Homo sapiens: one gene and its partner. The protein of the gene in region 2 purifies or fractionates together with the protein of the main gene of each other region. This does not show direct contact. Each region holds a gene or a part of one and is shown on either strand. Other genes may lie near its edges.

Evidence for each region. Proteins that work in one complex are often made in the same cells at the same time.
Region 1: the proteins of POLR1F (region 2) and DHX40 fractionate together in Homo sapiens (co-fractionation; one large-scale study listed by BioGRID). This does not show direct contact.

What each region holds. Positions count from the first base shown.
Region 1 is NC_000017.11:59,575,610-59,579,109, forward strand, and holds part of DHX40 (probable ATP-dependent RNA helicase DHX40), read left to right. Parts: intron 1-1,656; coding exon 1,657-1,756; intron 1,757-3,500. UniProt on the Homo sapiens protein: Probable ATP-dependent RNA helicase.
Region 2 is NC_000007.14:19,699,038-19,702,537, reverse strand, and holds part of POLR1F (DNA-directed RNA polymerase I subunit RPA43), read left to right. Parts: intron 1-2,257; coding exon 2,258-2,466; intron 2,467-3,500. UniProt on the Homo sapiens protein: Component of RNA polymerase I (Pol I), a DNA-dependent RNA polymerase which synthesizes ribosomal RNA precursors using the four ribonucleoside triphosphates as substrates.

The DNA of each region.
Region 1 (3,500 bases), on a different chromosome or scaffold from region 2:
GATCATGAAACAAATCAGTGAGAACCAGCATTCCTTGACAGTAGTGATTTTTGCCTGAAGTCTTTTTACATTCACTTTTTTGAGAGTCGTGGATATCCCCCTTATTATCGTTTAGAGTATTGTTTCTCCCAGCAAAACAAAACTATTGGTGAGAATTCTTTGAAATGAGGACAGTAGTTTCTTGCTGGTATTACTGTAAGTCAAAACCTAATTTGCCATTGCCACAGAATTTTTAGAAATTGTGTATATCCAGCTATATCTAAGTCTAAACACAGTGGATTGTTTTGTTTTTTTTTTGTGATGGAGTCTCGTTCTTGTCATCCAGGCTGGAGTGCAGTGGCGCAATCTCAGCCCACTGCAACCGCCACCTCCTGGGTTCAAGCGATTCTCCTTCCTCAGCCTCCCAAGTAGCTGGGATTGCAGGCGCTCGCCACCACACCTGGCTAAGTTTTGTATTTTTTTTTTTTTTTTTTTAGCAGAGATGGGATTTTGCCATGTTGGCCAGGCTGGTTTCAAACTCCTGACCTCAGGTCATCTGCCTGCCTTGGCCTCCAGAATTGCTGGGATTACAGATGTGAGCCACCATGCCTGGCTGTGGATCATTTTCCTTTTAAAGTAGCCATGCCTTAGTCTGCTTTTCAAGAATGATCCTGTTCTTTGGTGAATTCCAAGAGCAAATGCAAACTCTTGATTTGACATTTTGGTTATAGTAAATATTGTTGAATGAGGTTTAGAATTTGTTTTATAAAACTTTTATTATGGAATTTAACTTGTAAAGTTAAAGGGAAATTAACCTTAGCCTCCTATTTGGAGTTGGAATTAGCATTTGAATGTTTTTATATTTTACATGTATGCGTATTAACAGCTTTTGTTGATTGGGTGATTCTTATCCCTATATTAACAAAGTTTTGGAATATATGTGTCAGTAAAGAACATAGATGTGCTATTTTGGAAATCTTTTTTATGATGATATTAGCTTCTTACTCTCTATTGAAGCATAGATATCTATTTTAGATTTTGTCATCTTCAGGGAAATTCTTAGGATCATTGTTTAAGGTTCTCATTGTTTTCTCAAGATTTGGTTCACCGATGCTTTTATAATTTACATTGAAACTGATAAAAACCCATTATGTTTGGTTTGTTATTAATCATTAACTAAATATGTACATAGACATATATTATTCTATACAGAGTAAATAATTTCATTCTTTTTTACTGCTACATTGAAAATAATGTTCTGGATTTTCTCTTGCCTCTGTTTTTTTTTTTTTGTTTTTTGAGATGGAGTCTCGCTCTGTCGCCCAGGCTGGAGTGCAGTGGCGCGATCTTGGCTCACTGCAACCTCTGCCTCCCAGATTCAAGCAATTCTCCTGCCTCAGCCTCCCGAGTAGCTGGGACTACAGGGGCGCGCCCCCACGCCCTGCTAATTTTTTGTATTTTTCTTAGAGACAGGGTCTCACCATGTTAGCCAGGATGGTCTCGATATCCTGACCTTGTGATCCTCCCGCCTCAGCCTCCCAAAGTGCTGGGATTACAGGCGTGAGTCACCACGCCCGGCCTAGAAACATGACTTGTAATGAAAAATTAAGTTCTTCAAAACTCGAGTTTGACACATGCATGTTGTAAATTGGTATTTTCTTTTTATATATACTTCAGATCAACAGAGGAGGATATTTTTGCCACCACCACCTGGAATTAGAAAATGTGTCATATCCACCAATATTTCTGCAACGTCTTTGACAATAGATGGAATCAGGTAAAACTTTTGAACTTTCTCTTAAAGTCAAGGAAGCCTATCGTTACTAAACATTAGCTAAACATTACTGAGTTTGCTTTTCTGTGCCCTCCACTAATTCCCTTCTCTCCTACTTTTTGATGTTCTTAACATGTAATCACCTATTTTGTTTTGTAATTATTGATTGCTTTGAGCAGGAAATGGAGTAGGAGGTACATACTATATTCCTATTCACACTTTTTGTTTTTTTAGAGACAGGGTCTCATTATGTTGCTGAGGCTGGAATATAGTGACTATTCACAGGCGTGCAGTCATAGCACACTACAGCCTTGTATGGAGATCAGCCAATCCTCCCGCCTCAGTCTCCTGGGTAGCTGGGACCACAGGCATGTGTCACCGTACTTGGCTGTTCACACTTTTTAACTACTTGGCAACTTGAAGCTTCTTTTCAAATTTAAGATTATGTATAATGCTTTATGGGTTTCACTAAATAGGAAGCCAAACCTATTTTTCTGTACTCCCATTATAAGCATATACCTTAGATGATTTGATATTTCCTTCTACCTTGCAGCCTCACTCGGTAGAGTTAGTTTGTATATCCAGTGTTTATCTGGATGTATTGTCTCTGACTTTTTACCTTTTTGTGAAAATTAACTATGATTCAGGTCCCTTATCTTTTCTGGATGTAGTAAATAGTGCTATCAAATTTTTGGGTAAATTTAGTAAGGAAACACTAAGAAATTTTAAGTCTGGACTGACAACTAATGCAAAGTTCTTTAAGACTGGGTTATTTATCATTTACCGAATATATTTTATTTCTTTAGCTAAGTCTGATTGTCTGTCTCCGGAAGGCTGAACCTGAATCTCAAAGATCCTGTGTGTTTCTTCTGGGTAAAATGATCACCCAGGTCTGAGAGGAAGTCTAATTTCCTCTGCTTTTCTTCGTTACTTTAAAAATAATGGTTTCACTAAGGGATTAAGGGAGTGCTCTCCTGGGTAAATTAACCTCTGTAATTTTCTGTTTCCTGCACAGGCAAAAGCCATTAAATAGCATGTTTCAGAATGTTGTCTTGTTACTGCTATCCTACTTTGGTTCCTTACCTGACTTGTTCACCATTTAATTGGCTTAGAATGGCATGTTAAGGGCTAGTTGAAATTAGATTCTGAATCTGTTTAAATGGTCTGAAGCTGACTTTCAAGTTTGTGTATTTTTGTATTGAGGCAAAATTCACATAAAATTAATCATTTAAAATGAAAAATTAAGTAGTACTTAGTACATTTACAGTATTGCGCAACCACTGCTTCTGCTTAGTTCTAAAATATTTCAACACCTCAAAATAAAACCCCATACCCATTAAGCAGGTACTCCACATTCCCCTCTTGACCCCAGCCCTTGGCAACTACCAGTCTTACTTTTTGTTTGTACGTATTTTCTTTTTTAAAAAATTCTTTAGATGTGTCAGCAGGAAGCAGTAGGTATTTTCTATTCTGGATATTTCATACAAATAGAATCATATAATATGTGGCCTTCTGTGTTTGCTTTCTTTCACTTAGCATAATATTTTTGAGGTTCGTCCACATTGTAGCATGTATCAGTACTTCATTCTTTTTTGTGGCTGAATAATATTGCATAGTGTGTGTGTGTATATATATATATATATATTCCATTGTGTGTGTATATATGCGTGTGTATATATACTACATACATATATGCAAAGCAATTTGTTCATCCCTTCTTCCATTAATGGTTAATGGACATTTAGGT
Region 2 (3,500 bases):
GCTTTCTGGACCCTATCAAAGAAATTTGTCTGCCGAAAAGTTGTGCAGATACTGTTCTGTCGACTTCTACAAGCTTTTAGTTTTAGCTTTTCCATTTAAGTCTGTGATCATTCTCAAATAATTTTTGTGTGTAGTGTGAGGTAGGCCTTGAGATCCACTCTCTCCTTCATGTAGCTTTCCCGTTGTTCTGGATTCATATATTAAAAAACCTTTTCTTTCATTGATTTTCTGAAATTGACATATTTTTAACAGCAGTTTTAGGTTTACAGAAAAATTGAATGGAGAGTATAGAGTTCCCATATAACCACCCCCTTTCCCCTATTATCAACATTAACTTGCATTAGTATGGTGCATTTGTTACCATTTTTGTGCCAATATTGATACATTATTATCAAGTAAAGTCTGTAGTTTACATTAGAGTTCAGTCTTTGTGTTGTACATTCTATGAGTTTCCACAAATGTGTCATGGCATTTATTGAGGTATTGCTCCTCACAAGAGGGCATTAGCTGCGGGGGTCTGCCTGCAGACCTTGACCTAAAAGATGGATGAATGAAACGTACACTGACACACAGATATTGCTTTGCCAGTACTGCTGAGTGTCCGACTGCCTACACACCGAGAGAGGTTTGTCACTGCCGCTGGCCCTGAGTAGTTCACACTCCAGGCATTTATTTCGTATACAATTAACAACAGAAGCTCTGAGTCCACACACTTTTGGATAATTAACATGGTTAAGTGAGTAGTTCTATGAATGATTAAAGCTCAGGTACCGAGGTTTAAAGTAAATATCACTGGGGGCAATATCCCTGCCCCCCCAGAGGCCATCTGACTTAAAGGTTAGTTAACAGAGGTAGGGTAAACAGACTTAACTGGGGAAGCCTCTATTGTCCCTAGTATTTACTCTGTAACTTAATGCTCTAAGGTAAGAACCGGCTGTCTTCGGCCTGTTCAGCTATTACAAGCTATGTAACCTTTTGGCCTTCCAAAAAGGTTTGTGACTATTCCCTATAACTTTCCCTAATATTTCCCTTTAATATTTCTGCCACTATCCTGAGTGAATCCCAACAACTTATCTTCCATTATAGTATGATACGGAATAGTTATCCTCTCCTAAAAACCGCTTGTGCTCCACCTATTCATTTCTCCCTTCTTCCCTCCGTTCCCTGTAATCCCTGGCAACCACTGATCTTTTTACTGTTTCCGTAGTTTTGCCTTTTTAAAGAAGAAGAATAGAGTATGTATCCTTTTCAAATTGACTTCTTTCACTTAGCAATATGCATTTAAGGTTTCGCTATGTCTTTTTATGGTGAGAACTTATTTATCTTTATTACTGAATAATCTTTTATTTTATAGCTGTACCAGTTTGTTTATCTAGACCATCTGGAAACTACCAGTGGGAACACTAGACTTCTGATCATACCAGATAGGGAAGTTTTATTCTGTCACATGTGTAAAGGGTTGCTGATGTTAAACAGCATTGTATACACATCGGCATTATTTGCAGTTTCATAATTCAGAAAATGTGAATTTTTAATATTTCTGAGTCTCATTTATATGCTTTGTATATATTGACCCTGAGAAGAAAAATAAGTTTTATGCAAAGTCTCATCTTAAAATCATATAGCACATACTTTTGTTTTAGTTTTAAAGCTTCTAATAATACTTTCGTGATTTAGCCAAAAAATAGTCATGGTCAATATTTACATTTAAAGGGTAAGCTGTCTTCTAATGGAATGCTTGCATCATGCTAAATTAAATAATTAAAGAATGCATTTTTAAGCTTTGAAATTTGGTCTATTTACAGAAACGTAACATGGATCCCAGTTATAAAACGCATATGAGGTCTTTTTAGAAGTTATATGGGGTTTGCTTGGTTTCAATGTAGCTAAAGAGTAATACTGTCCTCCCTAAGGAATCCTGCAGTGGGGAGTTGAGATGGTTTTTTTTCTTGGACAGGGTGGCGGGGGCAGGTTAGTTTATCCAGTTAGAAAGTTAATGTGCCCAGTTAGACAGTTAATGTGCAATTACTTATATAATAAAGTTTGAGCTTTCTCAAAACCCAGTGGTATTCTAAAGTGATGTTTTGGCATGACATGTGGTAAGTTTTAATTGAGGTAAACTTTTTCCATATTAAATTAGACCATTAATTTGATGTTTGTTCTTTGAAGATTATTTGAAGCTTGTAAAGTTTGGTTCACCTTTTAACTTTGTGGATGTGTTCTTTATGTTACGCTCTTTCTTCCTTCTTCTTCCCAGGGTATAGTTAATAAAGTGTCTTCTAGCCACATTGGCTGTTTAGTACATGGGTGTTTCAATGCCTCCATTCCTAAACCTGAGCAGTTGTCAGCTGAGCAGTGGCAAACCATGGAGATAAACATGGGTGATGAACTAGAATTTGAAGTATTTCGTTTAGACTCAGATGCTGCTGGAGTATTCTGCATTCGGGGAAAACTAAATATCACAAGGTTAGTTTATCATTACGTAATTATCACTAGGTACTTAATTTCTATTTAATTCTGAATTTTAAAGAGAATTTTATTTTAATTTTAAAGAGAATAAGCCTCTCTAAAAATACCTGTTTATAGGAATATTCATGCTTTCAAACCATAAAGTCAATATAAACAATACTCTTAAGTAATCTGTAACAGTGCATCAAATAAATATTCTGAAACACAGACTAGCTAACTGGTCTGTATTTTAATATTTAATAGTTCAATTTTGCTGAGTATTTTCTATTTTGTTGTTAACTTTTTTTTTAAAGTTGACCTCTAAACTTGAAACTACTGAAAGCACAATTACCTTCCTAACTATTGGCCTGCTTTGTTTTTACACACAAAAAATTGTGTTGATTATTGTCTTCTGTGCCAGATATTTTAATTTCTGTATTATTCTGTATAGAAATTATTATAAGAATTAACTCTGATCTTGAGCTTGATTCCATGGGAGCCAAGTTTAAAGGAAGAAGGAGAGAGACAACTCTTAAAATGCTGCTATTGCTAATAATTTTTTCTGTATTTTGCCTTAAAGTTACAAGAGTATGGGTTGAAGTTCTGGAACAGCTGTTCAATTTCTGTAATGACAGAAATACAGTTTATATACATAGTACAGCAGCCTCACTATTGAGCATTGAAATATGACTAAGTCTGACTGAGGAACTGAATTTCTAAAGTTATGTTTTTGGTAGTGATTAGGTACATGTGCCTAGTGCTACTGTATAAGACTGAAGTTCTGGAGAGAAAGCTACTTCATCGATCCATGTTTTATTTTAGTGGTGTAAAATAATTCACAATGTTAAAGTAATACTATCTTAGTATCAGCTAAGTAGAACAATGGACTATTATTTGAAACAAGATTAAAATAGTAGACTGGAAACTCCATTGCTTTGATAAATACCAGATCATATTTTCTATTAGATGTCAGTGGTTTGGTTAATAAGCCTAGGTATTGTGGTGTTTAATGTTCAGTGACCAAATTTTTCTGAAACAACCCAAAACTTGGA